2 separate regions of the Homo sapiens genome follow, and region 2 is reported to be linked to region 1. The links are microRNA targets in miRTarBase. Many come from high-throughput screens and were not tested one by one. Region 1 holds a microRNA gene; the other region holds the end of a gene's coding sequence.
Evidence for each region. The annotated mature microRNA hsa-miR-586 reads UAUGCAUUGUAUUUUUAGGUCC and lies in region 1 at 1,453-1,474, shown strand. An mRNA with a match to its seed (bases 2 to 7 or 8) in the 3' UTR can be bound and repressed. Matches are read on the target gene's strand: a 7mer-m8 pairs with bases 2 to 8, a 7mer-A1 pairs with bases 2 to 7 and ends in A, and an 8mer does both.

Region 1 (3,414 bases):
TATACATTTAATCCAATGCAACAACAGTATTTTAAAATAGATCTTAAGAAATAGGTGTATTTTATTGTCTTTGAGTTAATACATTTTGAAATATAAAATTGTATGCATTTCTAATTTTAAAGATGTTGTGTCTTTAAAGATGACAACAGCCCTTATAAGCACTAGTAAAAGATGTAATTATTTCTAGTCTTAAGATTTTAAAATGTTATAAAATAGCACAGATATTTGTTAAGTAACAGTATGGGAAATAAAGTGTTGTAATTGGTCTGTTATAAAGCTATTCTGTTGCATTTTTCTATATCCTTAATTACATGATTTAGTTTCATATTATTCAAAGCTTAAAATAACAGATATGATTAGAAGTTAGTACATTTACTTAAAAATAATAGGTAGCTATTTCATGATAATAATTAAGATGTTGGTGTTCCAAATGTAACTTCAGGTAGTGTGACTTAACTCAGAGTAACTCAAGGAAAGATATAGCAGCTTAGTCAAAAACCACTCATGTTACCTGTTATAAATAACCCTGGATCAAACTAATTTTCTTAAAAATTAACTTATATCAAGAAGTTATTTTAACTGTGTCGTTGTTACAGATGAGACATTGATTCATTGTTATATGCTATTCCCAAGTTCTGAAACTTGATTTGTTTTCACAAGTGAAAATTTCAGCAAATTAATGTATTGGGACTGATTCTTTTCTTTTTCTTTGTTTTCTTATGGTTAATTAAGAAAACAAATATTTTAACCTAAAGATATAACAAAGTATTAGGAGGAAGGTTTCTAGTTTTAAATTGCAAGGCTTGTGTGTTCCATAAGCCACCAGTGTTTAATTCAGTATTTCCATCTAAGAACTTACATTATAGCAAATGAGGTAGACATTTATACCTTTTTTTTCTGCTGCTGTTGAATACAAAATGACACTCAGTATTTGTAAAAGTGATCCTGTTTCAAATCAGAAAACTGCATCACTAGAATATGTATTCCTATTTTGAAAAGCTATTTTTAAAATATTTTTTTGTTCCTGCCTGGCTTTCATATTGATTAGACCAGCTCTTAAGAAGATATGATTAAGTATCATTTTAAAGTAAAAATGGGTATTCAAAGCATATAACATTTCAGATAATATCTTGTTCAGCAGACCAAAAGATAAGTTGAGAACTTTGAGAGATTTTTTTATTTCTAGAAATGCAGTGATGGAACATTATCAAGTTTGGGTTATTAAACAGTATTCAGAGTAAGAAGAAATCTGAATGCTTTTGTAAGTTTACAGTCTGAATAGATGCTAATTGCAGATGAGAAATACAGCTTTAAGTTTCTTACGTTGTATGTAATTTGGGTTTTTTTGGTGATTAATATGGCAGTTAGACTCACTTTACACTTTGTAAATTCAAAGAAAAGCAATTATCTAACAAAGTCAAATTCTTATTAAAAGACATGGGGTAAAACCATTATGCATTGTATTTTTAGGTCCCAATACATGTGGGCCCTAAAAATACAATGCATAATGGTTTTTCACTCTTTATCTTCTTATTTTATGTAAATGAAAAAATAGTATTGTCAATTTTTTTCTGCAAATACCACAAAACTTTTGTCTTTCTCATAGTTTACCTTAATTTTGTTACATTGCATATTTCAATTTGAATTCTTATTTTTTAATTAGTTTTAAAAAGCATGTATTATAGAGGATATATGAAGTATTCATCCAACCAAATAGCATAATTTAACTGATCTTTGAAAAATGTTTATTGGTTAAATGCACTTAGTAACAATGTATGTAAAGAAGAAACACCATGTAAAACAGGAGCCACTTAAAAATTCCTTGGTAGATTTATTTTTCTTTCAAATCATTTAAGTTATTAGATCATAGTATGAACTATTGTTCATGAGTTTTTGAGTCATTTATTTTAAAAATTTCATGAAAAAATCTGAAATGATCAAGTGACATTTTCTCTCCATTTACTTGATTATTTGTTCATTCAGTGTTAATTGAACACAATTTTATTGGATGCATCAAAATATTAAAAAATAATCTTTATTCCTATTTCTGATACTTAAAACCAATTTAAATATGTAGTAGCAATTTTAATATTAAAATGAGAAATGAGTATTGAAGAATTATGTCTTAAAACGAAACTTCTTCCTCCACTGTTGAATTTAGCATACTATTTTTTATGTTAACCTTTTGTACCAGGGATTTTTTTTTCTTCTCCTCAGAAGCTGAGGATGTGTTATTTTAGATGTATCTTTACCAAGGAAGAGATGGTAAATCCATGTTGTGGCTTTTTACGTATTTTATAAAGACAGGGTTTTAAAAAAATAATATAGCAACACTGTAAGTCAATCTTCTCCATGTTTTCTTGAATCATTTTTGTATTCTCATCTTTTATCAGTAGTTGTCACACTTTTTATGGAACCAAATGCCTAATAATTGAAACACATACACATGATCTTTGAGAAATCATGAAAATACAATTCTTGTGCTTAGTGATATCCAGAAAGCATAATATTCTGAAAAAAGTTATTCCCTTCAGTCAATTTAAAATTAAACACTCTAATGCAAAAGGATATCTAAGGTGAAAGATGTTTGTGTAATGCTAAACATAACCAAAGAAACTGTGGTTTTAGCAAAGGTACTATTGCTCTATTTTATCAAGTGCCAGAAATTGCATAATGAAAGTCTTTCAGTTAGTGAAAATATAAGTATAAAAACACAAAAATACCACCCAGCTGGTAGAGATCTTCCTAATTTTTACCTGATTGTATTTCTGAAGAAATATGGCAGGGCTGTCGTAAATTTTCAACATGAACTGCATTTTTGTTGCCAATTTCCATATCCTTTAAAAAGTGCTGAAGCGTGCATTTGCTATTTATGTTTGCAGTAGACTGAGTACACTTTTACTATTTGTGGTTTTAGAAATTGGAAACAACCAAACAGTGGTGCTATGGTCTAAAAAAATAAATTTTAAACAGCTGCGGGACAGTATTTTTAGAATGGTAGGAGTACTTCTAAAGCAATATATCTGCCCCCTACCCCCTTTTAAAATGATTGAATATTGTCACAGATATAAAGTCAGATATCTATTGTGTATTATCTATGGTAGATTGGATAAATTAAACTAAAAGTATATTTTGATAGATGTGAAATATATTTTTAGCGTGCTAGTGTCAGCTCACTTTTCTAACCTGTAAATATTTGTTACTATATGCCAGCTACTGGCATATACACTTCATAGGCGTTGAATCTTCTCCTTCCTTGGGTAAGAATGATCATTATTCCCATCTTACAAATAAGAAAACTGATGTAAGTAACTTGCCCGGGATCAGAAAGTTTGTAACTACCGACCTCAGTGAGATTCAAACTAAAGACTCATGAATCCAATTGTTTTTCACCTTATGTTTGGGGCAGATACT
Region 2 (3,414 bases), not on the chromosome of region 1:
GGCAGAACTTCAGAAGTTCTCAGATCATAAGCGCCTTCAACTCCTAGATCCTGTCTTTCAAAATGCAGCCGTTATGTTGGCAGATAACATTTATCAATTAGTGCGTTGTAGGCACTGGTGTGAAAATACTTTTCATGGAGTGTCCAGTAAGATGTTCACAACGTTTAGAGGCAGATTGTACCATTGCCATTTCATAAAAAAATTAATGTTCAGAGAGGTGCTATAACTTCTCCAAGGTCACACAGTTATTCAGTGACAGAGCCAGGACTCAGCCTGTAGCTCCCAAACTCCAAGTCCAAATCTCTTTCTTTCCCCTGGGCTGCTTAGGGTATCATGATGCAGGAAGGGATGGGGCCCTTGGGAGGATTCTCTACCGTCCAAGGGATAGTCTTTGACTGCCAATTAATGTCTGCCTTTCATGTCCCACTTTTATCCCTCTAGGTTCTGAAGCTGCTGCTCGTGGCCTGGGATCGCCGCCTCATTTTTGCCATTGGCACCTCCAGCACCACAGGCGAGTCAGACACCGTCATCTGGAATGAGGTCCACCACAAGACAGAGTTTGGCTCTAATCTCACTGGCCATGGCTACCCAGATGCCAATTACCTGGATAATGTGCTGGCTGAACTGGCTGCCCAGGGCATCTCTGAGGACAGCACTGCCCAGGAGAAGGACTGAGGCCAGAAAAGCTTTGAGGTGGGAGGGGCCATGGAGACTGCAGGACAGGAAGTGAGGAGAGTGAGTCAATGTAGAAGAAGTTGGTGTCCTGCCCTCCCAACTTTCTATCCTCCCCTCCTGCCCTGTGTCCATCCCTCATCCCTCCCAACCACAGTGGGAGCCAGACTGAATATAGCGACATCATTCATAAATCTCATCCAACACAAAGGGAGATGGGATGAGGGCCATCCTGGGTCTGTTCCCATGGAGTTTTTGGTGCTGGGTAGGCAGGAATCCCCTCCCTACCCCACCTCCCAAGTAGGGGCATGGTCAGCACACCTAGGGTATGGGCAGTGCTTAGGCACTCCATATCCTGGCTTTGGGAAGCCGGGGTTTCTTGCCTCAGCCGGCTTCTTGCTACTTCCACTCTGCTTTGAGACTGGAGTTTCTGCTATTCTCCCTCTGCTGGAGGCAGGGAGCTCTCACTGTGCAAGGTTGGGGGGTGGGCAAAGGGGTGAATCACTAAACTGCTGTGACATCAGAAACTGATGCCTTGGTGTAGAGCAAGGAAGCACTTCTTCCCAAGAGGGTCGGAGAAGGAAAAGCCTCTGGGAGCACATTCTGCTGTCATCACAGTCCTTGGCTTCTCTGGGCCCTCCTCTCCTCCTCACAGCTCTCACCTGTCCAAAGAGGCATCTGGTTCTCTCATGTGGATGGATGGACTCTGGGGTTCCTCTTTGGAGTGGCATCCCATGATGCTGTTTCTAGACCCTCTCTGATCAAACCAGAGCCTGCATCCCACTGAGCATCTGAACTGTCCTCAGGGAGAGGAGCCCACAGCCTTCTTCCCAACTCATTCTAGACCAGCTCAAAGATTCCATGAGTTTCATCGAGTCACTGTGAGTGGAGCCCATGCTGGGCTCTGTGCCCTCTGTGTCTGTGCATGCGCGTGTGTGTGTGGGCGTGTGTGCATTGCTGGGCCAGCTTGAAGGGAAGGCCCGTCATGTCCCTGCACTCTGTTTTGCAAGATGCCAAACCCCAGTTCTGATGGGGCTCCAACAGCCAGGCTGTGGTCCTTTGACGTTCCTCACCTGTTGCCAACCTATCCCGTAGTGAACTGAAACCCCAATGAAGACAGAACTGTGCCTGGGGAGATGCAATGAGGTGAGGGCTGAACTCATCCTTTTATATTTCTTTTCAAGATTGGATCAGAGCTCATCTCCATCCAGTCTTGTTTCTATGAAGGCTTCAATCTGTTTCCATGCAAATTTGCTAATCAGAGCCCAGAGCTGCTGGGTCCCTCATCTCCCTCATCTATTATAGATTGACTTACAGCAGGGAGAGAATCTCTTTAGCTCATTCCTAATGGAGTTGGGATCACAATATGGTCTGGTCCAATCTGCATCTTGTTGTGTCCCAAGACCCTATCTCCTCCCCAACATTCTTATTGCCTTTGGCTCCCAGTAAGGAACGAATTGGGGGCCAGGGAGGAGAACAGGGGGGATCAAGAAGGGAAACCCAATTCCCCCTTTGAAAGTGGGTTCTTTGAACTATGTGTTTGGGGGAAGTTCCTCTGGATACTAATTTGAATTTATATACCTCATGTTTTGGGGGTTTGACGTATATATATATATATATATATGCATATATATTTCATAATATTTGGAAGGTTTTTGATGCTAGAAAAATGGAAACAAGAGAACCTTCAAAAATGGTACTTAGATGGGAACTGGAGGCCAATCTTTCATAAAGCCAGCCCCATAGCTGCTTGCTGTTAGGCCTCCAGCCATTTTGACATTGGGGTGGATAGTCGATTCACCTGCCTGTCAGTCGATTCACCTGCCTGTCACCCAGTTCTGTGGATGTGCTGGTGCTGAGCCTTTGCTCTCTTTCCAAATGGTTACAGGGATGTTGATCAGCTCCACCAGAGGGAGCTCTGATGGGAGGAATTGCTCTGCCATCCTTGTCCCTGTGTCTCCTGTCGGCAGGCAGCCATTGTATCTCACCAGCAGACCAGGAGACTGGTCCCAAGGTTACTGCACCACAGGGCAATTTCCTGCCATAGTTAGGAAGGAAACACCTGAACTAAATGGAAGAGACATCCCTGCGGTGTTTAATATCACACCCATGCCCTTTGTCAGGTTACCATGTACAGAGATTACTTGGAGAGCCTCATGCCGTCTCTACCTTCGCACACTGGTCAAGTATCTGCTGAGCTTCTTGGCCGCAAGGATGCAGAAATAGGCTGAGGGTCCATGGGAAGAAAGACACAATGAGGCAGTAGGAGGTGGGGAAGAAAAGAAGACAGACTTTCAAAATGGAATTAGGCACTGGGGAGAGATCAGTTTCCCCACATCAGGGAGAAGAAGGTATAGGTGGGGAAGGGGGTGGCCAGGAGCAGAAGGAAGAAGACTCAAGATGGAAAGGGAGCCGCTGTGCCTGTGGCAATACCACTTGGAGAGGTCGACTTCATACCTTCAAGCCTTTTCCCCTGGGCTTTTGATTGTGTCTGTGCCCCCTTTCTTGTCCTCTCTGCAGATGCCCAGTAGGGGCTACCTCATCCTCGTGCTGTTCTTGTGTGGCTTTCTGGGCAGTAGGGATCTTGAATTTCCTTTCTAACACTGTGCCCGGCAAGGCGGGGAGCATTCCTCTGCCCTTTGTCTTGTGCCAACCTGGAAAGGTGCAGTCTAGATTTCAGTGAGAACCCTGCCAGCTGAGCCCTGTGCATCTACTACCTTGACACAGAGTGTTTTCCCACTA

Region 2: miRTarBase lists DTX4 as a target of hsa-miR-586. Seed matches in the 3' UTR shown: 7mer-A1 at 2,295-2,301.

What each region holds. Positions count from the first base shown.
Region 1 is chr6:45,195,794-45,199,207 of GRCh38, reverse strand. It overlaps MIR586 (microRNA 586), which reads left to right and starts at 1,438; the gene lies at 1,438-1,534. The region is part of intron 2 of SUPT3H (SPT3 homolog, SAGA and STAGA complex component); the gene reads left to right.
Region 2 is chr11:59,204,235-59,207,648 of GRCh38, forward strand. DTX4 (deltex E3 ubiquitin ligase 4) reads left to right here. Exons shown (of 9, transcript NM_015177.2): 9 at 442-3,414. The coding sequence ends at 675. Among named protein-coding and RNA genes, the nearest start is that of MPEG1, 7.0 kb to the right of the region's middle.